Homo sapiens: one gene and its partners. The protein of the gene in region 5 purifies or fractionates together with the protein of the main gene of each other region. This does not show direct contact. Each region holds a gene or a part of one and is shown on either strand. Other genes may lie near its edges. The genes, in order: SERPINB13, DMKN, PPL, CALML5, RBM24, SERPINB3 and ANKRD40.

Evidence for each region.
Region 1: the proteins of RBM24 (region 5) and SERPINB13 purify together in Homo sapiens (affinity purification with mass spectrometry; 3 studies listed by BioGRID and IntAct, with this or other methods). This does not show direct contact.
Region 2: the proteins of RBM24 (region 5) and DMKN purify together in Homo sapiens (affinity purification with mass spectrometry; 2 studies listed by BioGRID and IntAct, with this or other methods). This does not show direct contact.
Region 3: the proteins of RBM24 (region 5) and PPL purify together in Homo sapiens (affinity purification with mass spectrometry; 3 studies listed by BioGRID and IntAct, with this or other methods). This does not show direct contact.
Region 4: the proteins of RBM24 (region 5) and CALML5 purify together in Homo sapiens (affinity purification with mass spectrometry; 3 studies listed by BioGRID and IntAct, with this or other methods). This does not show direct contact.
Region 6: the proteins of RBM24 (region 5) and SERPINB3 purify together in Homo sapiens (affinity purification with mass spectrometry; 2 studies listed by BioGRID and IntAct, with this or other methods). This does not show direct contact.
Region 7: the proteins of RBM24 (region 5) and ANKRD40 purify together in Homo sapiens (affinity purification with mass spectrometry; 3 studies listed by BioGRID and IntAct, with this or other methods). This does not show direct contact.

The regions. Positions count from the first base shown.
Region 1 is NC_000018.10:63,593,539-63,597,573, reverse strand, and holds part of SERPINB13 (serpin B13), read right to left. Parts: intron 3,549-4,035; exon of another isoform or gene 3,400-3,548; coding exon of another isoform or gene 3,336-3,399; intron 3,220-3,335; coding exon 3,077-3,219; intron 2,546-3,076; coding exon 2,390-2,545; intron 616-2,389; coding exon 211-615; 3' UTR 1-210. UniProt on the Homo sapiens protein: May play a role in the proliferation or differentiation of keratinocytes.
Region 2 is NC_000019.10:35,496,445-35,500,444, reverse strand, and holds the end of DMKN (dermokine isoform 2 precursor), read left to right. Parts: intron 1-25; coding exon of another isoform or gene 26-67; intron 68-415; coding exon 416-487; intron 488-1,547; coding exon 1,548-1,571; intron 1,572-1,681; coding exon 1,682-1,729; exon of another isoform or gene 1,730-1,847; intron 1,848-2,763; exon of another isoform or gene 2,764-2,798; intron 2,799-2,906; 3' UTR 2,907-3,225; downstream 3,226-4,000. UniProt on the Homo sapiens protein: May act as a soluble regulator of keratinocyte differentiation.
Region 3 is NC_000016.10:4,884,824-4,888,858, forward strand, and holds part of PPL (periplakin), read right to left. Parts: intron 3,396-4,035; coding exon 3,279-3,395; intron 2,405-3,278; coding exon 2,312-2,404; intron 1,225-2,311; coding exon 1-1,224. UniProt on the Homo sapiens protein: Component of the cornified envelope of keratinocytes. May link the cornified envelope to desmosomes and intermediate filaments. May act as a localization signal in PKB/AKT-mediated signaling.
Region 4 is NC_000010.11:5,498,001-5,501,399, forward strand, and holds CALML5 (calmodulin-like protein 5), read right to left. Parts: upstream 1,571-3,399; 5' UTR 1,439-1,570; coding exon 998-1,438; 3' UTR 697-997; downstream 1-696. UniProt on the Homo sapiens protein: Binds calcium. May be involved in terminal differentiation of keratinocytes.
Region 5 is NC_000006.12:17,284,097-17,288,131, reverse strand, and holds part of RBM24 (RNA-binding protein 24), read right to left. Parts: intron 3,476-4,035; coding exon 3,421-3,475; intron 1-3,420. UniProt on the Homo sapiens protein: Multifunctional RNA-binding protein involved in the regulation of pre-mRNA splicing, mRNA stability and mRNA translation important for cell fate decision and differentiation. Plays a major role in pre-mRNA alternative splicing regulation.
Region 6 is NC_000018.10:63,654,285-63,659,016, reverse strand, and holds the end of SERPINB3 (serpin B3), read left to right. Parts: intron 1-386; coding exon 387-504; intron 505-1,604; coding exon 1,605-1,747; intron 1,748-2,030; coding exon 2,031-2,186; intron 2,187-2,955; coding exon 2,956-3,360; 3' UTR 3,361-3,820; downstream 3,821-4,732. UniProt on the Homo sapiens protein: May act as a papain-like cysteine protease inhibitor to modulate the host immune response against tumor cells. Also functions as an inhibitor of UV-induced apoptosis via suppression of the activity of c-Jun NH(2)-terminal kinase (JNK1).
Region 7 is NC_000017.11:50,697,746-50,701,780, forward strand, and holds part of ANKRD40 (ankyrin repeat domain-containing protein 40), read right to left. Parts: intron 2,972-4,035; coding exon 2,823-2,971; intron 2,149-2,822; coding exon 1,654-2,148; intron 1-1,653.

The DNA of each region.
Region 1 (4,035 bases), on a different chromosome or scaffold from region 5:
CTTACGCATGGCACAAAGAAAAGGACATTTCACTTTCGAGGATGGTTATAAACACACACATTATTGGAGTCATTAAATCATTGATTTGATGGCCAAGACTGGAAATGCAAGTGAGACAACATTTAAAAGAATGGACGATTTTCATAATCATATGAGTAACACTGGTAGTTGTTTTTTGCTAAAAGCAGCAATGCCATGGCAACGATCATCTTAAGGAGAAGAAAATCTGCCGAAGAAGAGGATGCTGTTGGATTCATTGTGCCTGATGAAGAACAGGAAGGGATGATTGCAGTGAACATTTTCATGACCTGGGGCGGATGTGACAGTAAAGCCTATGCCGGTGGCAGCTGCAGCCTCGGTGCCTTCCTCAGTTACTGCCACAAAGGAACTGTGCAGGAACTTCTGGGCGTACAACCCGGAGCCTGACGACATTCCCGAGTAGTCGGCTTTGTGCTCACTGAAGGCATCGCCCATCCCCATGGCAGCCAGGACCGCCTCTAGATCGTAACCGTCCTCCACCTCAAACCGGGGCAAGTGCAGATTCACCTTTCTTTCTTCCATATGCCCTGGACTAGTCCACTCTACCAATTTCTCAGGACTTATTTTATCTATTATCTATTTTCAAAAAAAGAAGAGTAGAATGGCATGATTATCAATAAAAATCTAAAACAGTGTAACACTGATTTGTGTCAGTCAGAAGTTATTAATTTTAGTAATATTAAAAGTAGAAATTTTATTTCACTAGATTGTTGTCTTTATACTGCAGGCGGTTGTCTTATATCTCTCTGTTTAAATTATCTGTGTATATGTGGAAATCCAATAGCATTGAATACATTTTTAAAGATTAAAAATAAGTCATTTCTTATTTTATCAACCTAGTATATATTTCATTTTAACTATCTCTCCTAGTCTTTGAATGCATATATATTTACATAGTTGCAATCACAGTGAATGTCCATTTTATTTGATAAAAAGTAAACTTTTTCACAATATTGCATATCTCTCCTATCTTCAAACAGCTAGATAATATTCTTATGAAGTTGATAAATTTTTCCCAATATTTAGCTATTCATTCACTTTACAAACATTTAGTCTTTATCAGGCATTGTGATAGATTTGATAGTTACTAAGGATACAAAATAATAATTACGATGAATTTCAAACTGGGCATTCCAGTGTATTTAATACCGAAATAACTGATTTTACTCAGAAAGGCAACTTTTTTCTTCTGCATTATTTCTTTAGAGTAATTCCCACAACTGGGGTTTTTGAATCAGAAATACTCTTAAAGCTCTCAGACATATTGCTATTTTGCTGTCTCAAAATATTTTCCAACTTAAAATGCTACTAGCAATATTTCACAGAAGTAGCACAGCATCTGGTAGTATAAGACGATAGCAGTTATCATTTGAGTGCTTTCTATGTCCTAGACCCCTTCTAGGCTACGTTTCTCTAATCATTCCAACACTGCTGCACGTTAACCACCATGGAGCCCTCTTCAGAGATGGGAAAGTATTGAAGTTCAAGGAAGTTAAGAAGCTTCAAGGGTCAGAAAGCCACTAGAGGAACAGGGATTTGAAACAAAACTCTCCTCATTTTCAAAATACAGGACACTAGCCACAATTTATTTATTTATTTATTTATTTATTTATTTATTTATTTATTTATTTAATTTTGAGACAGAGTCTCGTTCTGTCACCCAGGCGGAGTGCAGTGGCGCTATCTCGGCTCACTGCAAGCTCCACCTCCCAGGTTCACGCCATTCTCCTGTCTCAGCCTCCCGAGTAGCTGGGACTACAGGCGCCCACAACCACGCCAGGCTAATTTTTTGTATTTTTAGTAGAGACGGGGTTTCACCGTGTTAGCCAGGATGGTCTCGATCTCCTGACCTCGTGATCCGCCCGCCTCAGCCTCCTAAAGTGCTGGGATTACAGGCGTGAGCCACCACGCCCGGCCTTCACATAATTTTTTTAACCACAGAATGGATGAGACTAAATCAATGGTGTAAGAGTGTAAGAAAGAAATTCAAAAGCTCCAAAAGCCTATTGAACAGTGTGCAGAACTGGTTGTATATATGCATATGTGATTTCTTTTTTCCAGGAAAGGGGTCCATAGATACCAACCATTTCTCAGAATGGTGGGTGATCGTTAGGACTCCCATATAATCTTAAATGTTCATTTTAGTTCATCCCAAACATTCTAGGATTAGTTGTTCTCAATAAACCTGACCCATACTATTTAATGCTCCCCAGTAGACATCCATCTGTAGCTGCTGGAGAGTGAGAAACACTTTCTATTTGACACTGCTGGCCACCAGCTCCTACTCAGAAGCCCTGAGACAAAAAGCCTTAGGAAATGAAAGAAAGAATAAGGAGGTGTAAGCGTTTACCTTCTCCAGGCCATCGATGTCGTTGGGCAGAAGCACAAACATGCTTAGGTCGTTGTTTTTATATGGAATCCCTAGAATTTTGGCCTGCAAGTCCTCCAGGAAAGTGAAGCTAAAGGAATGGCTCTGTGTCATCATCTGTACAGATTTACTTGTGCTCTGCAACAAATTAACAGAGCACACAATATCAAAGGACATAAGACCAAAGGCATTAAGGCAACCAAGTTAGTTCATCAAAATAATTAGCTCAATCTAAAATAAAACCCAATATCAGAGTCTCAGAATGAGCATCCACTATCTACCAGTATGCATTTGCTCAAATATGACTTTAGATTTTTTTGGGGGGGTGGGGGATGGAGTCTCACTCTGTCACCAGGCTGGAGTGCAGTGGCATGATCTTGGCTCACTGCAACCTCTGCCTCCCGGGTTCAAGCAATTGTCCTGCCTCAGCCTCCCAAGTAGCTGGGACTACCGGCGTGCACCACCACACCCAGCTAATTTTTATGTTTTTAGTAGATACGGGGTTTCACCATGTTGGCAAGGATAGTCTCGATCCCTTGATCTCATGATCCACCCACCTTGGCCTCCCAAAGTGCTGGGATTACAGGTGTCAGCCACCACGCCCAGCCATGACTTTAGACTTTACATTCCATGTGTAAGCACATCACGAAAATAAACTAAGGGCCATACCTTATTCATCCAAAATTTCTCTTCCTTAGTATTTTCTTTCTTAAACTCCCTGTCCCATTGCCCTTTAAAATAAACCATGTTCACCAGCACCAGCTTGGTAGAGCTACTAATAGAGCCATCTGGGAACAAGTCCTTGATTTTTTCTGCAAATGAAGAAACAGAAAAAGGTTGACCCATCTTCCAAATGACAAATAATATGTATGACAAATATGATGCAGATGGACTTGACTGATCATTAAAAACCCAGCCAGGTCAGCACCTGAGGGCCTTGCTGACAAAGGGTTTGCTGGCAGAATCGACGGGGAGGTTCTCATTTTGCCCATCGCCTATTTATCCCAGTGGATAAATTAAGGTTCATGGTTAAGAGTCCAGACTCTGGGGTCAGATGCCTCTGTTAGCATCCAGTTTGCCTCTTATCAGCTGAGGAATCTTGGGCAAGTTATTTAAACTCTCTGTGCCTCAGTTTCCACATCTGTAAAATAGGAATAAAATCTGCCTCATAGGGTTGTTGAAAGGAACAAATGATTTAACACATGTAAAGCTATTAGAATACCATCTCACACATAATAAGCACTCTGTGTTAGCTATTATGCTTACCATTCAATATAGTTACCACCTGAGATTAAGGGATTACTTATTATATTGGAGAAGGAGTTGATATTTTTGTCTCTGAGTTCACCCCATCCCACAATAAATTCTAAAAAATACTGTTCAACTTTTTGAAAGATCCTATTTTTTCTGTTTCTTTTATTTCCTTTCTTCAGACCAAGCATGAGGGGAAAAAAAAAACACATTCTGAATAACAAAGTTCTCTCTGATAATTGGTATAAAAATGGAATCTGAAACTCTAACACTAAAGTATCAGCTATTGCTCCCCAAGGTGAATTTCCACATTAACATTTCTCTGTGGATTTCCCATACCAGGGGATGAGAAAGGAATAATGGGATAAGAAACTTGT
Region 2 (4,000 bases), on a different chromosome or scaffold from region 5:
CTCCTCCATTCAATGGCTTTCTCAGCCGGGTGCAGGATGGCAGGAGGTGGCAGCTGTAACTTCCAAGGTGAGACATCTACCATGGACCCGCTGGGTTACGTCCTGGCACTTCTTTTCTTGGTCTCCTACCCTCACCTCCCAAGTAACACTTGAAGAGTTGGCAGAGGTCTTGAGGGCAGGAGGAGGAGTAGGAGGAGGAGGCGGCGGCCATTTGGGCTAGGACAGTAAAGGCAGGTGAGGGTGGGGGCCCTGGCTGGCTGGAGGAGATTGTATAAAAGAAAACACGTGACACAAGGAGGGGAGCAGGCAGGTGTTTTAGGAAAGGTCTGGTCCAGGCAGGAAGGTGGGATGTTTATTCCAGAGCAAAATGGCCTTCGTCCGTCTGTTCTAACCGCCATGCCCACTTCTTCCACAGAACTACAATTACAACCAGCATGCGTATCCCACTGCCTATGGTGGGAAGTACTCAGTCAAGACCCCTGCAAAGGTGAGACCGGCAACCACCCTGTCTTCCCGCTGGGGGCTCTGCATGAGGGATGGGGAGAGAGGCTTTCACTGCCGGGGTCCTCTCGGTTGGTTGCCGGAGGCCGGATCCCGCTCTCTTTGAGTCCAGGCCTCCCCACCCCTTTGCAAGGGAGACTCGGGTTCCCTGAGACAGTTTGGAAGTGGAGGGCAGGAGGGTTCAATGCGCCTCACACCCACCCAGTCAGAAAAGGTTAAAAAGGAGCAGCAGCAGCAACAGAGAAAACTGAGAACCAACACCCTCTCCAAGAAGAATATAGGCTTTAAAAAATCATGACACCTGCAAAACACGCAAGCAGCTCTTCCTCACAGGTTCCCTCTCTGTGGACCTTTTTTTGCGGGGGAAGATGGAATGGAGGGCGAGGAAAGCAGACTAGCACTTAGGGGAGGCCGGCCTGTGGATGCCTGGTTGGCGGTGAAATGAATGCTTTATTCCACAAAGGAAATGAAAAGAAAAAATACGTGAGAATTTGGTTTTATTCCGTTGCAAAGAAGGCAATCTCATAACATCAGTAAATGAATATGCTAAGTACAAATTTGGCTGACAAAGCAACAGCAGGCTGTGTATTTCCATCTCTCATGACAATAAAGTCCCCGCCCTTGGGGAGAGGACCTTCCACTGAGGGACGAGAAACTACAGGCTGGTGAGAGGAGGGACATGCAGCTTCTACTGCCTGTGGCTTCCACTCTGCTGAGTTATCTGTGGCTTCCACTCTGCCGGGTTATCTGTGGTCAGTGTCTCCCTACCTGGCAGGCCAAAGCGAGGCCTATGCTCTTTTGACCCCCTTGGTCAGTACGTGCCCAGGAACCATGTTCAATATCATCTTGGATCAAGTGCACTCAGGATGATAAACGTGCTGTGAAACCAACTCCACAGCCTGAATGTCCACAGTCAGACTGGAAAACCTTGGTGATAGCCCTGGTGTGAGCCTGCCCTTGCTGCTGGGCCCTTCATGAGCGTGGAGGCCATGGCAGAGTACAGGGAGGCCATGACCCCACATCACTTTCCTTTGATCTTTTTGCAGGGGGGAGTCTCACCTTCTTCCTCGGTGAGTATGGGGGCCTGATCTTCATCTGGCTGGAGAGAGAAGGGGCCTGAGGCCAGAGGGTATGGAAGGGACCCTGTGGTGGCCACTCAGACTTTCTCTTTTTCTGGCAGGCTTCCCGGGTGCAACCTGGCCTGCTGCAGTGGGTGAAGTTTTGGTAGGTGAGTGTCAGAGTGAGCCGACCCAGGCCACATCCTGGCAGTGGAGGCACAGTCACCCGGGGCAGGGCCAGGATCTTGGTATATCCTCAGATCTCAGTGGGCAGCGACATGAAGTCAGGTATGCTCTGGGTGCGTGCTCTAAAGGTGATAAGGAAGAGGGGACCTCATGGTGGGGTGTGGAGAAAGACCCATAATAAAGTGATCTAGGGCTGGGTGCAGTGGCTCATGCCTGTAATCTCTGTGCTTTGGGAGGCTGGGGTGGGAGGATCACTTGAGTCTGGGAGTTTGAGACCAGACTGGGCAATATAGCAAGACCCCATCTCTAAAAGAACAAAACAAAACAAACCAAAACAAAACAAACCATTCCAGCCTGGGAAACATGGCAAAACCCCGTCTACTAAAAATACAAAAAATTAGCCAGGTGAGGTGGTGCATGATTGTAATCCCAGCTACTCTGGAGGCTGAGGTGGGAGAATCACCTGAGCTTGGGAGGTTGAGGCTGCTGCGAACTGCGATTGCACCGCTGCACTCCAGCCTGGGCAATCACAGTGAGACCTTGTCTCAAAACAAACAAACAAACAAATGAAAAACCTTAGCCAGGCATGGTGACACATGCCTGTAGTTCTAGCTACTTGGAAGGCAGAGGCAGGAAGATCGCTTGAGCCCAGGAGTTCAAAACTGCAGTGAGCTATGATCACACCATTGCACTCCAAGTCTGGGCAACAGAGGGAGACCCTGTCTGGAAAGAAAGAGAGAAAGAGAGAGAGAGAGAAAGAGGGAAAGAAAGCAAGCAAGAGAGAAAGAAGAAAGAAAATGACCTAGGACCCTCGGAAAGCACCTTAGGGTGGGACCACATAGGCACAGCTCTGAGAAGATGGTGTTCTAGATGGAGCACAGGGACCGGGATAGAGATGTTACAGGGGAACTGTGGAGAAAAGAGCCTCCTGGTGGAAGGGTTCAGAGGTGGGACGCAGCGAGGCTGCATGGGCGAGAGGTGATAGCTTGGCTCGGCAGAACCACAAACTCTGTTTTAGGCGGAGCAAAAGTGAGGGGCACCACAGGCGAACAGGTAGGACAGCAAAAGAATGGTGGGTGCCCAGACGCTGGGTGAAAAGATGCCCCGTTTCCGCAGGCTTAGGAGTGGCCACGTGCTACCATTTGATTTTCTTTCTTCTAGGCAATTTCTTGCAACCACCACCGAGGCCCCGAAAAGCACTGGTCGTCAGGGAGCTCCTCCCCTTGGCCCCCAGCCTGTGCCAGCCCTGGCCCGGCTGCCACACCTCTGTTTCCTAGGCTGGGGACCCAGCTTGTCTCTCCTTGTTTCTTCCCACTGCACTGTGGTGCTTCAGTGGCCACCAGCCTCGTCACATACACCAGCATCTTTCTGTACCTCCTCCCTTTGGTGACCTGAAGTCACTGTGACAGTTCTCCAGGAAGGAGGAGCTTCCTACTTTTGAGTTTCTCTGTGGAAATAAAACATGAATCTTGTTTCCCTACGACTTTCTCAAATTTTATTCTTTAATGCTATGTTGATGGCCTGGCTCAGGGAGGATGGAAGAGTGATTCAGGGGCAGCTAATCTGCCTTCTGCCTGAAACTGGTATAAAGCACAGAGGCTGAGAGAGATGAGACCTGGGTTTTATTTCTGACAAGAAGCCTGCATTGTGCCTCAGTTTCCTCATCTGTTAAAAAAAAAAATCATTGCCCAACCTATATCTGAATACCATTCTTTTTTTAGAGACTCAATCTCACTCTGTGGCCCAGGCTAGAGTGCAGTGGCACGATGTCGGCTCACTGCAACCTCCGCCTCCTGGATTCATGCAATTCTCCTGCTTCAGCCTCCTGAGTAGCTAGGATTACACGCATGCGCCACCACACCTGGCTAATTTTTGTATCTTTAGTACAGATGGGGTTTCACCATGTTGGCCAGGGTGTTCTTGAACTCCTGACCTCAGGTGATCTACCCGCCTCAGCCTCCCAAAGTTGCTGGGATTACAGGCGGAAGCCACCATGCCCGGCTTGAATACTGTTCTTTTTTTTTTTTTCTTGAGACGGAGTCTCGCTCTGTCACCCAGGCTGGAGCGCAGTGGCGCGATCTCCGCTCACTGCAAGCTCCGCCTCCCAGGTTCACGCCATTCTCCTGCCTCAGCCTCCCGAGTAGCTGGGACTACAGGCGCCCGCCACCACGCCCGGCTAATTTTTTGTATTTTTTAGTAGAGACGGGGTTTCACCGTGTTAGCCAGGATGATCTCCATCTCCTGACCTCGTGATC
Region 3 (4,035 bases), on a different chromosome or scaffold from region 5:
CTGGATTTCCTTTTTCAGCTGGTAGATCTCTAAATCACACCTTTCGATCAGTCTGGTCTTGTCCACGATCTCCTCCCTGAGCCGCTGAAGCTCCTTCTCCATCTCAGGGTCAGTCTTGTACTTAATGACTTCCTTAGTCACCTCTTTGACTTCCACCTGGGGGCCTCGCCTCCTGAGGGCCTCCAGCTCACTCTGGTAGCTCCGGAGCTGCTCCTCGGCACCCCGGTACTTTCGCTCCTGCTCCACAAGCTCCAGGCGGAGGTTCGCCACTTCACTTTCCGCCTTGGGGTCTGGCCGCACGATCTCCCGCACCTTCTCCTGCACCACCACTTTGGCGTTCTCCTCCTCCAAGGCCCATATCTTTCGGAGCAGCTCCGTCTTCTCCCTCTGGCTAGCGCGAGCCTTGGCAGCCTCGTCCTCATATTGGCGGGTGAGATCGCTGACCTCCCTCTCGGTGGCCGCGTCCTTCTCCACCTTGAGCACCTCCTTGACGGTGATCTTGCCCTCGGCCATGGCCCGCTCCTTCTCTAGCCTCTTGAGCTTGTCCTGGAGGAAGCTCAGCTCCTCCTCCTGCTTCTCCCTGAGCTGGTCCTGGCGCTGGTGGTCCTCCTGCAGCTGCTGGTACTCTGCCTCCAGCTGGGGGTCATTCTGCAGTTTCACCACCTCTTTCTCTGTGACCTTCTCCTGCGCCCGGCTCTTCTCTTCAGCCAGGGCGGCCACACGCTGCTGCAGGAGGAGCACCTCTGCCTCCCGGGCGCCCTTCTGCCGCCTCAGTGCCTCCAGCTCCTCCCGCAGCTGCAAGACCTCATCCGCCTGGGCCCTGTCAGGCTCGATGCGCAGGACCTCCTTGACCACGTACTCCTGCCCCCCGTCTCTGGTCTCCTGCTCCAGGGCACGCAGCTGCAGCTGCAGTGCCTCCAGCTCCTCCTGCAGCAGCTGGTTCTTGTGCTGCTCCTCTGCCAGCGTCCGCTGCAGCTGCTGGAAGCTCTCCTCCAGCACGGGATCCGGCACCTTCTTGAGCACCTCCTTCCTCACCACCGATTCCTGAGGCCCCTGATTCCTCAAGGTCCAGATTTCTTCCTGGGTGCTCTTGACCTCGTTCTCCAGCTGCCGCCTCCGCTCAGTCTCCTCATCCAGTTCCTTCCTGATCTTCCACGCCTCCTCCACTCCAGAGTCCGGCCTATTCCTTTGCAGGGTCTCATGGGTCACTTCTACTTCCGGCTGCTGTGATGGAGAAGACAAGACAAGGTTAAAGCCAGGCTCTGGCAGCACATGTAGGGCCTGTCCCCACCTGGTCAGAGTGGCTGTCCTGTGGTCCCCAAGGGACTCCCTCAGTGCCAGTTCATGTTAGTTGTAGAGTTCTAGGGTTACTTTCAAAAAGGATCAAACAACTAGTTTGGGGTTTTTTTTAATCAGGTAAAACATTTTTGAGCTGTGGAAGAGTTTAAAATGAAACCACGGTCTCCCACCTCTGGTCCCCGTCCTAGGGCGTGTCTGTCAGCCTTGCAGATGCTATCTGTGCTCACACAAGAATATCTGTCTGTAGTATGTACCATGTGTTTATCTCTCCTGCACAAATGGTATTCCTGCTGCTCACTGCACTTACAGAGCTCATTCCAGCTCAGCACAGAGAGTGCTGCTTCAGGATTTACCAGCAGCATTGTTTCCGCTCTCTGGACAGACCGCAGTTTAGCCCATTGCTGATGAAGAGTGAACTGCTTCCAGTGTCTTGCTATTAAAAAACAATGCTGTCATCAACATCATGGACTTCAGAAAATAACATTCACTTTCTTTTGTTTCTTTCTTTTTTTCTGAGACAGAGTCTCGCTCTGTTGCCCAGGCTGGAGTGCAGTGGCACAGTCTCAGCTCCCTGCAACCTCCACCTCCTGGGTTCAAGCAATTCTCCTGCCTCAGTCTCCTGAGTAGCTGGGATTACAAGCATGCGCCACGACGCCCAGCTAATTTTTGTATTTTTAGTAGAGACGGAGTTTTACCATGTTGGCCAGGCTGGTCTCGAACTCCTGACCTCAGGTGATCCGCCTGCCTCGGCCTCCCAAAGTGCTGGGATTACAAGCGTGAGCCACCATGCCCAGCTGAAAATAGCATTCACTTTCAGCAGATGTTTACTGAGTTGAATAAGTTCTCATGTCAGTAGAAGCATTGGCTCGGGCCAGTCTTTGCATTGGCCCTGCCCAGAAACGTTAGCAAGGGGACACTTCCATCAATTCACAAACCATTTCTCTAAGACAGAGTCTGTATTTGTCACCTGTTAGAACAGCCTGAAGTAGAATTTCTTACTAAGATCAGTTACCTGTCTGAGGAGATTCAGAGCAAACTCCAGATTCTGCAGCCTCTGTCTGTTGATGGCATAAACTTCAGTGAACTTGGCGGCAAGTGCTGCTTCCTGCAGAGAAGAGGATTAGGAGAGCGGTCAACAAACAGGTGTCAACAGGGTAAGCAACAGAGAGCTAGACAGCGTGGACGTGGTTCTTGAGAAGTGTGGAATTTGGGGGTAGAGGCATAGCTCTTGCCCACTCCTGCCTGGAGTTAGACTGTAGCCTCACCGGTGGAGAGAAAAATGGATCTCGAGGCAGAAGATCCAGGCCAGGGTCTTGGCCACACTGACTTTGAGCAAGTCTTTCTGCCTCTTAGAGCACCAGTGTTCTCTCTTGTGTGTACAGGAGACTAATATCAGCCCTCCACTGTACTTACTGAGGTGAGCAAAACAGGAACTTCCCAGATCCATGGTTCTGACCCTGACACTTCTGTTCAGCTGCATTTTCAAAAATTTTTATTTCTTAAAGACAGAATCTCTTTCACTCAGACTGAAGTGCCATGGTGTGATTGTAGCTCACTGCAGCCTTGAACTCCTGGGCCCAAGTGATCCTCCCTCCTCAACCTCCCAAGTAGCTGGGACTACAGGTTTGCACCACCACGCCTGGCTAATATTTTTGTAGATATGGGGTCCTGCTTTGTTGCCCAGGCTGGTCTCCAACCCCTGGGCTCAAGCAGTTCTCCCACCTCGGCCTCCCAAAGTGCTAGGATTACAGGTGTGAGCCACTGCGCCCGGCCTTGCTGTCTTTCTAGGCATATTGATGTCACTGCCCTAGAACAAGTTCCTCATCTCTTACCAAACCTGTTTGCATGCAGGAGGGCTCTCAGTGGCTTCCCTGTTGTGTGTGCATCTCTGAGGCCAGCGTGTGACACCATGCTCCCTGGGGAGCAGGGCAGCTTGGCCTCCACCTCAGTCCCGAGGCCGCCTGGCCCATGGAACTCACCTCTTCCTTCACTTTGGTGGCAGGAGATTGGAGCCTGGCTCTCTTGCTCACGTGGCTTCTCCTTCCATTCTCCAAGTCGAGAAGAGACCTTAGTTTTTCTGCTTCTAACTCATAGTCCTGCATGAGGGAGAGACATGGCAGAGGGGAGATTAAAACAGCTGAGAAGAGACAGACATGTTCCTGTACCCCTTCAGGCTGACCCAGACCTGCCCTGTGCCATGTGCTGGTTTTATAATCTGCGTGGGTCTTCCTCACAGCTGCACCCTGCAGTGATTTCCAGGAGGTTTTGAGAATTACTGATATCTCAGCAGTACATAGCTCCATCACTCAGTAACATATGAGACAAGAAGTGCCCCCTGAATTCCCCTCCCAGCCTTTCTACATGCCTAGAGATTTTCACATTCTGCTGCTGCTTTTAACATCGTACCATAACCCTGTCTCACCTTGCCACCACCTCTTCTCATGTTTACCAGCTTGCTGACTTTATAATCCATCAGGTGGATGTGTGCTGATTCACGCAGCTTTCCCCTTCCACTGGACACCAGTCCTTTCCAGCGTACTAGTTTTGCTATTGTAAATAGTGCTGTTGCAACAATGTTGTTTATCCTGCATTTTTTTTTTTGTACTTTTTCCTTAAGGATAAATTCCCCCAAAGTGTTTACTGCTTCAGAGTATAAAACCCTTTTACAGCATTCCATGTCTAGTACCATGCTGTTTTCCCAAAAGCCTGTGCCAGTTTGCACAGCAGCCGGCAGTG
Region 4 (3,399 bases), on a different chromosome or scaffold from region 5:
ACACAGATAGGCACACAGACACACACAAACACATACACAGACACACACACAGACACAGACACACACAGATAAACACACACAGACACATAGACACAGAGACACACACACACAGATACACACACAAAGCCACACACAGACACAGACACACAGATAAGACACACACACAAATGGACACACACAGACACATAGACACAGAGACACACTCAGACACACACACAGATACACACATACACATGCAGATGCACACAAGGACACACAGACACACAAACATACAGAGACTTACACACAGATGCACACATACAGAGACACGCATACAGACACACAGACACACACACAGATGCACACACAGACGTACACGTATATTATTTGCAGCCGAAGAGAGGCAGGCTGCGTGCAGAGGCTGGCAGCTGGGCTCCGTCTGTCCATGCGAGGCGCCCGCTCCTGTTTGTGCGGGACACGTGCCCAGGTCCTCACCAGCAGCTCAGGCAGAACCTGGAGCCACAGACACCGCCCAGCACCATCCTCACACATCCTCTGCCCACCTGCCCTCTGCTCCGCGTCAGGGGAGGCAGGAGCTGCCCCTGGGGCCTGCTCCAGGCAGTTCTGCCACCGCAGGTGAGAGGGGTGGGCTGGAAGGAACCCTGGAAGCAGGTGGGGGCCCTCGGAGGCAGCCGCCCCACAAACACCAAGCACACATGGAACTCGGCAGTCCTTTATTTAGATCAATGCGGGGCTGAGGGGCCCTCATTCCACTGCAGGGCAAAGGGGGACCAGGCCCAAGGAGGCCTCCTTCTGCCCAAGGTCTGGAGGCAGAGAGGGGCTCGCAGGCGGCCCGAGGGCGCCGCATCCAGGCCCCGGAGCGCAAAGCCTTCCTCCCAGGGGGAGGCAGTTTCCCATCCACCGACCAGGTTTCCCCGGAGAGTCCCAGCACAAAAGCAGCAGCGGGCGGTGGCCCTGAAGGCTCAGAGCGCAGCCAGGGGGACACAGGCGGGGAGCCTCACTCCTGGGCGAGCATCCTCGCGAACTCCTCGTAGTTCACCCGCCCGTCCTGGTCCACGTCGGCCTCGCGGATCATGGCGTCCAGCTCCTCCTGCGGCAGCGGCTGCCCCAGCCCCGCCATGGCCCGCCTGAGCTCGTCCACGGTGATGTGGCCGTCGCCATCCTGGTCGAAGGCGCGGAAGGCGACCTGCAGGTCCTCCAGGCCGGCCCTGGCCTTCTTCGCCGCCGTCAGGAACTCCTGGAAGCTGATTTCGCCGTCGCCGTCGCTGTCAACCTCGGAGATGAGTTTCCTTAGCTGGGCCTCCGAGAGGTTCTTGCCCGTGGCCTTCAGCGCCGCGCCCAGCTCCTGGGCATTGATGGTGCCGTTTCCATCCGTGTCAACCGCGGAGAAAGCCTTTTTGTACTGGGCCTCCTCCTCAGGAGTCAGCTCACCGGCCATGCCTGCGTCTCCTGCACCTCGCGGAGCCTCCGAGCTGCTGCCCACCGGCCCTCAACCTGCTGCTCTCAGAGCTCGTGGTCCAGAGTGCAGGCAGCCGCAGGGATCCGGGCAGCGTCTGTCCCAGACAGTTCTGCCTTGGCATGGGAACCCCCTCCTTTTCTGCAATCGGAACAAAGGGAGGAGGGAGGCTCCCCACCCTCCAAATGCCCTGGGGTGAGAGCCTCCTCCCAGGGAGGGCCAGATCAGCTGCAGACAGGAAATGCAGGAATGGGAGTTGGGAGAGCTGTCAGGTGCCAGGTGGGAACTGCCATGGGGTCGGGGTATCGGATGGCTAGCCTGCCAACCCCGCCTGGCCTTGATAGCAACCACCTCCCTCCAGGAACATTCTGCCCAAGGGATAGTTTCCCCTGCAGCTGATTCTCGGAGATCCTGACCAAGCCAAGGGGTTCAAGACAGCTTCTGCAACTTCACAAAGACTGAGACTGGAGGGGGAGGTGGCTTGAAGAGGGCTCCCTCAAGGGCACAGCAGGCCCCAGTGTTTGGTGTTTCCGTACCCCTCTCTCCAGTGCTACTGCCTAGCTCTTGCCCTGAGGCTGGGGCTGGTGGAAGGGAAGTGGGTGGTAGTGTTGATTCTGCCAGGGCACAACTGTGGGTATCATGAGATTCCCAGGCCAGGGTCTAGAGACAGAGGATGGGGCTCACTGCCTATAACTTCAAGGAAGCAAGGGACCAGGGCTGCCTTCAGAGCCATAGCTGGTGCTGAGATGGTGTTTATCAAGTGAACATGTGACGTGCAGTTTCAGAGGAGAGGGAAAGACTTTTTGTCTCCCCAGAATACTCCCTTCTAGCTCAGGGATTCCTACAATTCAATTCCATCGCCAAGTCCAAGGTTCCCTGTGCAGACACCCTGGGAGCTCAGTGGCAGGCGTTCCATTCACAGGGCGTCAAACAGTTACAGCTGGAGTTTTGCTGCAGCGAGACACGGGGGACCTCAGTGCCCAGCATACCCCAAAGGTGCAGGCAGAGGTGCAGGAGGATGCAGAACAGGTGGCTGCCATCAAACTTGGCCCTCCTTGTGGTTTTACTAAGCATCAGCCCTAAGCACAGAGACCCATCTGGGAGCCTACTGGGGTCCTCAATCTGATCTGTTCTCTGGAAGGAAACCCCCAGGGCCACTTGCCTTGACCAACTTTTAGAGCAACAGCTAAGCTTTCGGGGGACCATCCCCAAGTCCTTCCACTGATGTGATCTACAGTTGTGAGGGGACATTTGCCTTGGAGTCCCCAAAATGCCTTTCCCAAGCAAGTCCCCTCTGATCTCCATAGATTCCCATTCTTCTCCCCAGCCCCTGCCCGTACACAGGGAACAAACTCCTTTATTCCCCTGGGAAAGTTTATACATTCCACCTCCCTCCTGTTCAGCCCATCAAATAGACCAAGTGCCCTCTCCTTCCCTAAAGTGCAGCCAGACAAACACCTCCCAGCCCCTTGGTGCTGCACACATTCTCCAAGGGAAGCCGGAGGCTGGGGTGCCCAACCACGCACTCCATGACCCACAGCTCAGTCCCCCAGGACCACACAAGGGGCAAACCAGGCAGAGCAGTGAGAGGAGGGAAGATGCCCCAGCCAGCCCTAGTGTGGCAGCTGCTCCCTGAGCTGCATGTGAGGGGCCAGAGGGAGGTGCAAAGGGCTCGGAAGCACCACAGCAGAGGGAGAGGCTGAGGTCTGCAGAGAGGGAGCTCCGTGGACCAGGTACAAAAGGGAAGGTCATGGTCAGCAGGGAGAGGGAAGGAAGGGGGTCACCCCACCGGAGTTCAGGGGGACCCAGCATAGACAGAGAGATGCAGAGAGCAGTGTCCCAGTTGTCTAACTCATTTTATAAAGATAGCTTGAAGATTTTCTAGCTCACCTCAGTGGTGGAATAATACAGAGGCCTCAATAAATATTGAGCAACCAATTTCT
Region 5 (4,035 bases):
TGTGATCAGGGGGAAGTTAATTAACCTCTCTGTGTCTTAGTTTTGGAAAAGATATTAACAATGCCTTCAACAAACACTTACTGTGAGAATTAAATTATGTAATTTATGTAAATCCCTTATCATTACAATCCATATGGCAGATGTTTGGTTAGTGTTAGTTACAGTCCCTCCTGCCCTCCTTAGTGGACACTATAAAAACTAAGCACAGTGTTACCACACCCAGCATAAAACTGAGCACTTAAAGGGGTACTGAGTCAATGTTTAAGTGTATGTTCAACCTCATCTAAACTAGCCCAGAAATTTGTTTTTTGGTTTTTTTTTTTGAGATGGAGTCTCGCTCTGTCGCCCAGGCTGGAGTGCAGTGGCACAATCTCGGCTCGCTGCAAGCTCCGCCTTCTGGGTTCACGCCATTCTCCTGCCTCAGCCTCCCGAGTAGCTGGACTACAGGCGCCCACCACCACGCCCAGCTAATTTTTTGTATTTTTATTAGAGATGGGGTTTCACTGTGTTAGCCAGGATGGTCTCGCCCTCTCAACCTCCTGACCTCATGATCCACCCACCTCGGCCTCCCAAAGTGCTGGGATTACAGGCATGAGCCACCGCACCTGGCCACTAGCCCAGAAATTTCTACTCACAGATCTGTAGCCTCCCCTTTCCAAGGTTTCAATAAGGAAATGCTTCTTTCAACCATAAACTATAAAATATTGTTTAGCAAGTTTATAAGTTTTTCTACATCTGCCCACTGTGCTACATCAGAAATTCCTTTTAGGCCAAGGTTTTGTCTACAGAGGCCCAAAGTCACCTGGGGGCCATTTAAGGACCACATTCAAAGGAACAGTTCAGTTACTAGAATTTCAAGTAAGTCAAGTCAAATTTGAAATTCTCAAGTTTCTTTCCAGGCCTAAAATAGGAACATGTAGCATTCAAACAGAATTTAGGATGACCAGGTGTGATTTGTTAGGTACAGACTCTGAAATTAGAGCAGTGTTGAGAACCTCTTAAAAAAGAAAGAGAAAGCTCACTTGGTCCACCTGGAATGCTATCTATTTCTAATAAGAATCTCAAGTTCAAACAATTTATGCACACACTAATAATCACCATCCTTTATAAAGACAGTTAATATTAGAAGAGGTGAAAAACAAAAGGTTGCTATCAAAACACACTTGCTTTCAAATTTCCATGACACATCTTACACTGGTGGTTGTAATTTTCCTTGTGTTACCTTCTTTCTTAAGAACTGATCTATAAGGACTTCCACAATCAGTCCAAATTCCTATGCCCAGCTCTCAAGACCCACCTTAGACAGTCTGGTTTCTCCACGCACTGAGTCTTCTCCTCTATGCCTCTGCTTCGGCTCACTCCATCCTATACCCTCCAGACATATCCAGTCTTCCTTTTACCTGCCTAAGACATACCCAGTGGTGCAAGTCTAGTGCCAGTCTACCTGCCATGCACACCACAGCCTTATTCAACTCCTCCACTTCATCTATTTTCTTGCTACTCTGAATTCCTTTTGTACTTGAAACAATACCAAGTCACTTAGAAATTAATAATTCTTGACTGGTTTTTGCATGACTTTTGCTTCCCAAACTAATGTGCAATTCCCTCATTTTGCATCACCCACTGGCACAGTGAAAAAATAAACACATGCAACTACCTGTTGATTGATTCAATTTTATAACTGTTTCAAGATTATTAGTGTGAGCCCACCACTAAGCTCACATCACACCTTCAGATATATGCTCTCCTCCCTAATCCCACCTTAAACAGTTAAGTCTAAATGAATTACCCACAGAAATAGCTGAACCCATCAACCCACCACTTGTTTTCAGTATTTGGGTTGGCTTGGATGGGGATTTGCTAAGTAGCTATGGATATAGGAAGGCCCTTTCTGATCATATTGAACAGAAGACTCTTCCACAGCTAAAAAAAAAAAAAAAAAAATAGTAGTAGTTGGCAATAACAGTGAGGTACCGATATGTTAGAGTTGTAAGGAGGTGGTCATGGGAAATATAACTTTACTCTTCCAAGTCAAGTTATTATTAATTTCTTTTTAAAATCTATTCTTAGAGACACATATGGTAGACATCTATCTATGTAGACAGATTCCAGCCTTCCAGGTTACACAGGTAGATGTTTTAGGTCCTAAGCTAGAGGAGAAATTATTATTGAGGATAAAACACTCTTTCAACAACATGAACATTTAAAAAGAAAATTTAAGTATCCTGCGTTAGAGTTACAGGCATGTTGATCAGGTAGAACAGAGCCAAAACAGAATCTAGTGTCCAGGATAAATTGAGGCGAGGGGTGATCTCCCACCCATATAACCTCTGAAAGGAAGAGAAATGAGGACCTTGGAACAGGAAAACTGGTAATCACAGGACCCAAAGACAACATAAATATGAACAGGTGTTCACCTGAGTTAGATCTGAAAGGTGAAAGTTAGTGTGACGCTACTCAAAAAAACTGGCTTGTGTTAATAAAATCTGATGAGAGTTGTTGAACCTTTAAATTAGATGGCCTAAAAGTGGATACACATTGCAAAAGAAAGAACCCCATTCCCAGAAAATTTCCCATAAAACAGAAACTTAGGACATGCAAGCAATGAATCTGTATTCTGACAAAGAGAAATCACACAATTTAGCACTCACTACAAAAATGTGGTTAAATGGAAGTCACAGGCTACAGCTTAAAAGCAAGAAAAAAAAAAAGGCCCTTTGCTTCCCATGGCAAAGTCAAAAGTCAACACCCCTCAACACCACCACCAAAATCAAAACGCAAAGAGCCCCTTCCCCGAGGAAAAGAAAACACTTTCACTACAGCTCTTTTCAATTAAGTAAAAAGCACACAGTTTAGCTATCAACACCACTTCATTACTGTAATAAATAAAATAAAGCACACGAAGGGCTATTGACTATTGTGAAAAATAAAAACAACAACACCAACATCCATGCATCGTTAATCACCATCTGAGCTTGTGTGTCTGAGTCTACTGGTTACAGAGTTTAATTCCAAACAGAACTATTCCACCTCTTATCATGGTATCCTTCTGATCAGTTAGCTTAACTGTATACGAGCCCTGTCAGGTTAGAAAGAGATAAATAAAATTGAGTCAAGTCGAACAGTAGTAATGGTGATGGGACACAATCGTCTTGTACACAAGTCATACCTGGTATTTTTGTTTTGTTTTGCTAATCATAAGCTCAAAATTTGTCTCGTTTGGAGGCTGCATACTTGGTCAGATAACTTGACTCATCTAAAAATATTTATAGTATCAGCATTAAAAATGCACAAATATATATAAAATTGTATAACTAGGACCATTCTGTGACATCATGATCTTATCTGTATATAACAAAGAGGCACGTTAACAAATGATAGTCATACTGAAACTTAAGAAAGCCTGATTAATCAACTTACCCGAAAGGTCTTTGTATAAGGGCTGGATGAAGTTGTTGAACACCAAAGGCAAAACCTAACAACAAAATATACCACATTCTTTATTTGTGCATGGTTAGGCATTTATTATTCCTACATGTAAAATGCAATCACAACTTTCACTTATAAAAGATAAACATTCTTTCGCCACTTTAAAGAAACTATATGTATGTATATTTTTTAAAGTCAGTTTTATAAATGCTATCATTGATTCAAAATAAAGGTTTTAACAGAGAAAAGGTGAAAACTTTAAAAAAATCTGCAAATTTTAGTTGACAGACACAGAATCAGACCTTGGGAAAATGTTCATGAAATAAAATTAAGTACAGCAGGATTTGACAGTGAAGTTACATCTCAAATATTCTCACAGTTTTGAACCAGAATCTATGAAAAGTCTTTGTAATTTGGAACGTTCTGGGATGCTTCAGACAATGCTTTGGAAGATTATGGGTTTTACACTTTCCAGTATTAAAAATTCACAAAAAAAAATGTTTTTTTTCTGGATACTACATACCCACAATGTATTAGACAAATTTTTTTAACGCCCATGAATATTTGCACAAACACTCATTTTCTTGACAACCTAGTTTCCTTTTA
Region 6 (4,732 bases), on a different chromosome or scaffold from region 5:
GAGGAAGTACCAGGAAATACTGAATGCACAGGATGAAAGATAAAAACAAAGATCAGAAACATCATGGTTGAAATTACTGGAAAGAGGTCTGAGAAGCAATGAATCTCCTTCAGGGAAGCCTGCTCTGCAGTTTGCAAACCACAGCCTCTTCTGCTTCTGCCTTTTGCCAGATGATATTGACCTTCGGTGACCTCTTTCTTGCGCCAGCCCGCACTCCGCTTTTGCATTGCCTACATGGCACCAGTATAAAAATATGCATGGACAGGAGATACTGCATCTATTCAGGGTCTGGATTCAGCTTACTATAATTATAAATAACTAAATTTGGTAATATATAGTTACATAAATTACTCTTACTTCCTACTTTCTTCCTTCATATCTCAAAGGAATATTTAGATGCCATCAAGAAATTTTACCAGACCAGTGTGGAATCTGTTGATTTTGCAAATGCTCCAGAAGAAAGTCGAAAGAAGATTAACTCCTGGGTGGAAAGTCAAACGAATGGTAGGAGAGCCACCCATTATAGAAACACCTTTGAGAAATCTATGCGAGTGAGCCCTATGCCTGAAACTGCATGGGGGACCATGGGTGGGAATTGAGATGGCTTTGCAGGGAGGGAAGAAGAGGGCACTCCAGATGAAGAGTTTTTCCAAATGATTATGAAGAGAGCCTAGGGGAGCCAAGGAGGAAATCACAGGAAGCCAATTAGAAGAAAACATAGCCGGAGGATTCTTTGCTCATGTTCCTGGATGACAATAGCTTTGTGGATCCCTTGTCTCCACTCAGGTCCAATTTGAGATCATGTCCTTTACTTTAAATCAGAACCAATATTTTATGATGAATATTTAAAAGGAAACATTAGAAAGCATCTCCCTTCCCCTTTACTAATTGGGAAACAAGCAGCTCTCTGGTAAATCACCCTTTTGCCATCTGAACTAGAGCTGCCTGGATCACATCTCTAGCCACAAGTTCTGCAGGGATTATCACAGCTCTCTTCCCCATCAAGGGCAAGAGCTTAACAAATTCTCCATTCTATAGACATCTATCCTACCTCCCACCTCTCATTACAGGCCAAACTTACAGCAACTCAACATGAGAGTGAATAGGAAGATACCCCCGGAAGTAGTGTCTGACAGCACAGGACATGCGTTTCATATTACAGAGCTCATGTCACTTGTCCTAAAAAGCAGTCAGGGCCTACTTCCTCTGAATGGGGACCCCGTAGTTAAAAAAAAAAAAAAAAAAGTAGGAAGAGGAGGGAGGGAGAAAGGAAAGACACATGTTGAAAGAGTAGACAAAATCAGTTTATCAGTATTCCAAATCAGATGAATGGACTCATTCATACACAGAGAACGTGAACTCCTTCTCTATCACAAGAAGTGATGTCTCCATTAAGGGCAACTTTATACGACTGGAGCCTTGAAGAAAGCTGCATCTGGTGAACCACTGGTCAGTGAGTCTAACAATTCAAAGATCAAAGTCAGTGAGTCTCAAGTAGGGATTTGGGTCAATAATTAACGATCAGTCACGAACATTTGCAAAGCATCTTCCAGACAAGCCATTTGTAGCTTGTGTAAAAGACTCTTTTATTCTTTCCCTTGCAGAAAAAATTAAAAACCTAATTCCTGAAGGTAATATTGGCAGCAATACCACATTGGTTCTTGTGAACGCAATCTATTTCAAAGGGCAGTGGGAGAAGAAATTTAATAAAGAAGATACTAAAGAGGAAAAATTTTGGCCAAACAAGGTATTGTCTATATTTTATTTATATAATGTAATATGTTAATAAATTTAAACATTTCTGATGGAATGTACCATGACAAGTAAAAAATAAAATTGTTCATGTCTGTTTTTTTGTTGTTTTAGTCTTATAACTTTATTTAGTTAGGAATTCCTGAAGAAGCTATTGTCTCTAACTCATTACATTCTTGGATTATTTCTTAAAAGAAGGATGTGTTGATATCTCAATAATATTATCTTTTTGCCTTGTGTCTCACTTGGTATTTGTTGGACACATTGATTTATTGTAGAATACATACAAGTCCATACAGATGATGAGGCAATACACATCTTTTCATTTTGCCTCGCTGGAGGATGTACAGGCCAAGGTCCTGGAAATACCATACAAAGGCAAAGATCTAAGCATGATTGTGTTGCTGCCAAATGAAATCGATGGTCTCCAGAAGGTAAGAACTTGCATCTACAACTCTTCCTTCTACTGCCTGACATTTTTCCAAAGATACCAAGTTTAAACAAGGTAAAAGCTGGTGACCGAGTTGCCTCAAAATAATGAAAAATTCTAAATGAGGAATGATGACTCACCTTCATATTACAAAGATTTAAGCATAGGGCCTGACACAAACTGAAGGCATAGTTAATGATTAATTTATTAGAGTTACATGCATTGGATATCAATTTAATGATATTATTATGCAGCAATTTAAACTTGACTGGGAGAAATATATAGCAATGTGAGGAAAGTTTACGAATACACCAAGTAAAAAAGGGAATAGAAATTTAGGAATTTGGGGAATTGCAATTTAATAATTGCAATGTGTACTAAATAATGTATACAGAAAAATAAGATGAGCCTATTAAAAATTGACACATGTAGTAGGCTGTTGGCACAAGAAATAGTGATATATATAGTTCATTGTGTACAAAATAATGTAATCATATTTTTACATGTGTATCATACAGTTGTATACATACATATGTACACATTACATATACATAAAAACTTGATTCTGTTTATACACATACACATATAACCCAATGTATTTATATATCCAGGACTCATATTTTGCCTATTAGAATAATAATATCTAATAAAGTGAACCTTCTGTATTTCACATTTGTTGCCAAAATAAGGATTCTCCACATAGTCAATTCATTGTTAAGGTGTATTAGAAATCAACAGTTAGTCATATCAGTTTCTTTTTTCCATTTGTATAGCTTGAAGAGAAACTCACTGCTGAGAAATTGATGGAATGGACAAGTTTGCAGAATATGAGAGAGACACGTGTCGATTTACACTTACCTCGGTTCAAAGTGGAAGAGAGCTATGACCTCAAGGACACGTTGAGAACCATGGGAATGGTGGATATCTTCAATGGGGATGCAGACCTCTCAGGCATGACCGGGAGCCGCGGTCTCGTGCTATCTGGAGTCCTACACAAGGCCTTTGTGGAGGTTACAGAGGAGGGAGCAGAAGCTGCAGCTGCCACCGCTGTAGTAGGATTCGGATCATCACCTACTTCAACTAATGAAGAGTTCCATTGTAATCACCCTTTCCTATTCTTCATAAGGCAAAATAAGACCAACAGCATCCTCTTCTATGGCAGATTCTCATCCCCGTAGATGCAATTAGTCTGTCACTCCATTTGGAAAATGTTCACCTGCAGATGTTCTGGTAAACTGATTGCTGGCAACAACAGATTCTCTTGGCTCATATTTCTTTTCTTTCTCATCTTGATGATGATCGTCATCATCAAGAATTTAATGATTAAAATAGCATGCCTTTCTCTCTTTCTCTTAATAAGCCCACATATAAATGTACTTTTTCTTCCAGAAAAATTCTCCTTGAGGAAAAATGTCCAAAATAAGATGAATCACTTAATACCGTATCTTCTAAATTTGAAATATAATTCTGTTTGTGACCTGTTTTAAATGAACCAAACCAAATCATACTTTTTCTTTGAATTTAGCAACCTAGAAACACACATTTCTTTGAATTTAGGTGATACCTAAATCCTTCTTATGTTTCTAAATTTTGTGATTCTATAAAACACATCATCAATAAAATAGTGACATAAAATCATTTTTGCTTTACATTTTCTCTCTGGAAAGGGAAAGTGTCCAGTTACACACAGGAAAGACAATTTAGAGATATATTAATCACAAACAAAGGAAAATTAAAAACAGAGTAGTTCATGATGAGCCTGGAGTAGAAGGCATATCCCAGAACAGGAGGAGCCTTGTAAACCACATTAGGAACTTCCTATTTTATGCTAAAGGGATAAGAAACTCATTACAGGCTTTGATGGTTGTTTGTCAAAGAGGGGCATAAAATTATCATATCTTCATCTTGAAAATACATCTCTGGTTACTCTGATATCAATGGATGAGAGGAAAGAACAGTGTGGTTACCATATATAAATCAGGAAATCATTAGAGTATTGGGGGTGGAAATGAAGAGAAAGAAACAGCCTGGCAGAATTATTTAGGAAGTAATAGTTAAAAAAAGACATCTAAGTTTCTGAGCTATCTGACTGGAAGGATGGAAGAAAATGTTGTTTTTGAGAGAAAAAAAAGACCATGGGTTTAAATTTGTACTTGATGAATTGAGGTACTTTTAATATTCAAATGAATTTGCCTGGCAGGTACTTGAAGATATTGATCTAAATCTCAGAAACAGAATATGATCTGAAGCTCTAAATTTGTGATATTCAACATAAATACTTTAGAGTTATTGGGATAAACATGGTAATTGTAGCTAGAAGCAAAGATAAGATCCTAGGGAGGAAGGATAAAGTTAGAAGAAAGAAGAATCTGGAATTGACCTTGAAGTATATCAATATGTGTAAAGATCATGAACTGATCATTTTTATTTTCCAGAAAGTAGCTTTTCTTAGGGTTCCATATTTACTCCCATAGATTCTTCCCAGTCAGTACTGAATCCCACCTGGTTTCATAAAACATAAGTTTTAGAGAATTTGAACAAGGTTGAAGT
Region 7 (4,035 bases), on a different chromosome or scaffold from region 5:
AGACAGCCTGAGTCAAGCACCCTGTACATTTGGCAGTTCTGCTTTGTTCCCTGTATATGAATCCCTTGTAGCACCCCAGGTCACTGTTAGCACCTACAGTAGTAACTCCTCAAAAACAGGAAGTGAGAGAGTTACTTCCAGGAAAAAAGGAAAAGTAAGACTAGCTACACCCTATGGCATTTGACTGGATTTGGAAGAATCAGGATGAACTTGTGGTTTTTAATATTTTTAAAAAGTTATACATAGAGAAATATTGATATCTTTCCTGGCTATGTCCTCTCAACGGGCCTAGAAGAAATGATATACCTGTAGCAATGAGGACACCTAGTGACCACATCCTGGTGTCTGAATACCATTCTCGGTGGGCCCAAGTGGGAGGCAAGTTTGCTGTGTGCCCTAAATACCATTCTCCACCAAAAAGAACCAGGGCTTCTTGGAGAAATGACTGATTCCAGGGTTGGGGCAGGAAAAGTTATGCTATAAGCCCGGAACATCTTGCTGCCCCAGAAAGTAAGGCAGTGCTCCAAGAACAATGAAGACACATGCAAGGGACATAAGAACTAGCTTCAAGGGGCTCCCACTGGCCAAATCTGGGATAATTTGAATAATTAAAAAATGATAGTAACAGATTATAACCCACTGAATAAAATAAGAATATATGAGTCAATACTGATATGAATGAAGGAGAAGGGAAAGCCCTTCTTTACAGTAAAATACCAACTAATAAGTAGAGAAAGAATGATAGAAAATCATATCCCACAAAAATAATTGGCCTGGACTCTTCAAAAAGATCAAGATCAAAAATGATAAAGGGTAAAGATTCCAGATTAAAGGAAACTAAAACAACGTGATAACTACATGCAACATATGATCCTGGGCAGGATGCAGGGGGCAGAGGAGTACAGATAGTCCAGATAGATATCAATAGTACAGATAGTACTATTTCTGTAATAGTACAGACAGTACGTATAGTAGATGAGGGAATACAAAAGGCAATGTTTGAGACAACTGACAAAATTTAAACATGGTCTATGGATTACAGAACAGCATTAGCTCAAGATTACATTTCTCAAATTTGGTCATTTGTACTGTAGTTATATAAGAGAATATCCAGCTGGGTGCGGTGATTCACACCTATAATCTCAGCACTTTGGGAGGCTGAGGCAGGCAGATCACTTAAGGTCAGGAGTTTGAGACCAGCCTGGCCAACATGGTGAAACCCCATCTCTACTAAAAATACAAAAAAAAAAAAAAAAAAAAAAAATTAGCCAGGCGTGGTGGCATGCTCCTGTAATCTCAGCTACTTGGGAGGCTGAGGCAGAAGAATCACTTGAACCTGGGAGGCGGAGGTTGCAGTGAGCCAAGATCACACCACTGTACTCCAGCCTGGGTGACAGGGCGAAGCTACGTCTCAATAAAAAAAAGAGAGAATATCCTTGTTCTTAGGAAAGATATAATGGAAAGAATACTGAAGGGTATCAGGGTAAAAGGGCAAAAGGTAAACAATTTGTGAATTTGAGTAAAGGGAGTTCCTTATGTTAGTCATGTAACGTTTCTGTAAGTTTGCAATTATACCCAGAATACCTCATTAAATCCCACCCCTCTGGACACCAACTCCCCTGTTGCAGAGGCTGTTTGCTGATGAGGGGTTACCTTGCATATTAAATGGAAATGCTCCAGTGAAGAAAAATGGCTGGAATGCTGGCGCTGGTCCTGCATACGTCCCATTTTGAGGCTCCAGAGACATTGGTGGCTTGGACGGGACAGAAGAAAACAGGGAGCGGCTCTGACTCACTGGTGGCTGACAAACAGGACCCGGTTTTGTGCTTTCTGGTGTTCTGAGTATGGCAGAGGGGGCCGACACATCACCATTCTGAACTAGTGCCAAAGAGGTGTGGTCCCGGGGAAAGGTCCCTAACAGGGGAGGTTCCCCAGGGGGAAGCAATGGAGGTGAGCCATCTGCAGGGGGTGATGCAGGGGGTGTGGAGGGGCCCCCATTCTGCATCTGGGCTGAATCCTCTGCTGTGGGTGTATAGATAAAAGGGAAGGCTGGGTTGGCCAAATAGTTGGGAACAAAGGGCAGTTCTGACTCCTTCTTCAGCTGGGGGAGGTTGTCATCATCATCATCATCATCATCTTCTTCTTCCACTTAAAAAGAAGAAAACAGAACATTTACACAGTCCTTTCAAAATTATCAAAACAAGGTGTCTTTTGAAAGTGGTGTCTTTTGGTATGTGACATTGGTCAGTGTCAGGTCAGAAGAAAAAAGAATACTTCATTAGGTTTATGATTACCATTTTTATCATTATCTTAAATTTTACAAATAAAAAAATAAAACCTTACAATGCTGACCTCCCCAGAAACAATCTGGAATTACTATCTTGGCACAGTAATTTGCTTTTAGAAATAGAACAGTTGCCGGGAGCGGTGCCTCATGCCTGTAATCCCAGCACTTTGGGAGGCTGAGGCTGGCGGATCACCTGAGGTCGGGAGTTTGAGACCAGCCTGACCAACATGGTGAAACCCCGTCTCTACTAAAAATACAAAATTAGCGAGACGTGGTGGCACATGCCTGTAATCCTAGCTACTTGGGAGGCTGAGGCAGGAGAATCACTTGAACCTGGGAGGCAGAGGTTGTGGTGAGCCGAGATCACGCCACTGCACTCCAGCCTGGGCAACAAGAGCTAAACTCCGTCTCGGAAAAAAAAAAAAAAAGAAAGAAATAGAGCAGTTGTTTGACCAGCATTAAGAACGTAGCCAATAATACCACAAGTCTTCAATGAGTCTGAGGAAATCAAAAGTTCCCCCAAACACAGACTCACCTCCCATAATCTTCCTGATTTCTCTCCTTGATGTTAACTGGACTGGCATTTCTCCTTTTGTGGTAAGAATTTCTTTGTCAGCTCCTGATTTTAACAGGTAAGAGACCACCTGACCATGGTTTCGTTTACATGCCCAGTGTAAACAAGTCCTGTACCAAAGAAAATAATGATTGAAAAAGAGGAGAAGTGATTTTGGATTTCAGATTCTAAACATTAGTAAATAATGTATAAACAAGCCTGTTAGAGTTCAGCTAGAACCAGGTAACCGGGCTGGTAATCTCAACTTTTCACAAAGCCGATGAGCAAAATATTTAATATGCTTAAATTTTGTTTTTAAATTTCATTTCTGGCTCCTGAGAAAAACTAACTTAACCTAGGAGTTTTAATTTCAATAGCCTCCAGAAGGTAAGCTCACTGGCTGGCTAACTCCAATGATACCGTGGAATATACTCTATCAGTATCGCTCATTAGATCATCTCAGTCTCTGAAACATATTTTTCTATTGCTATATTCCTTTTCAGGGACTATGGAAACTCACTTCATATGCCACCTGAAGATTCAATATTATCAGGATAATAACCATCTCCTATCAGCAGCTTGCTCTGTCACTTAAATTATTATTATGACAGCAGATATTCTTGCCTGAATCCCAGTTGCTCACTTTCTTTTTCCTTCTTACTTTTCTTTCCTTAACACACACACAAAGGATTTCCAAATTTCCATTTTTAAAAAGTTGGCTTCTCTAGTTCTCTCCAGAAGGCTACAAACATATCCTCATCTGCGTAAATGTAAGGCACTGCACACATACTTTAATTCCTGAGGTACTTAAAAAATATACATCAACAACCAAAATTCTTCACGAACAGGTTCTTCTAACATATCAGACTCATTTAAGTAAAACTAATCACTCAATATTGTACACAGAGGAAGCAATTCTGCACACTCTGAAGGGCTACTATTTTAATACTGTACAGAAACATAATTAGCATGCCAGCAAAAACTCCATCTTAACAGAAATGAAAGATTCAGAGCAACTAAATCCATCCCTAGGTGCCAGAGCTGACTGTATATTATGGAAGGAAAATACTTTTCGCCTGTGTTTTGAAAGGTCTTCTTTCACCAACTCTCTAACTGAACTGAGATACATATCTTCAGAGCTCTTATAGCCAAATACAGAAATGAAGATTAGAACAAATGTTCAATATTGAAGGTT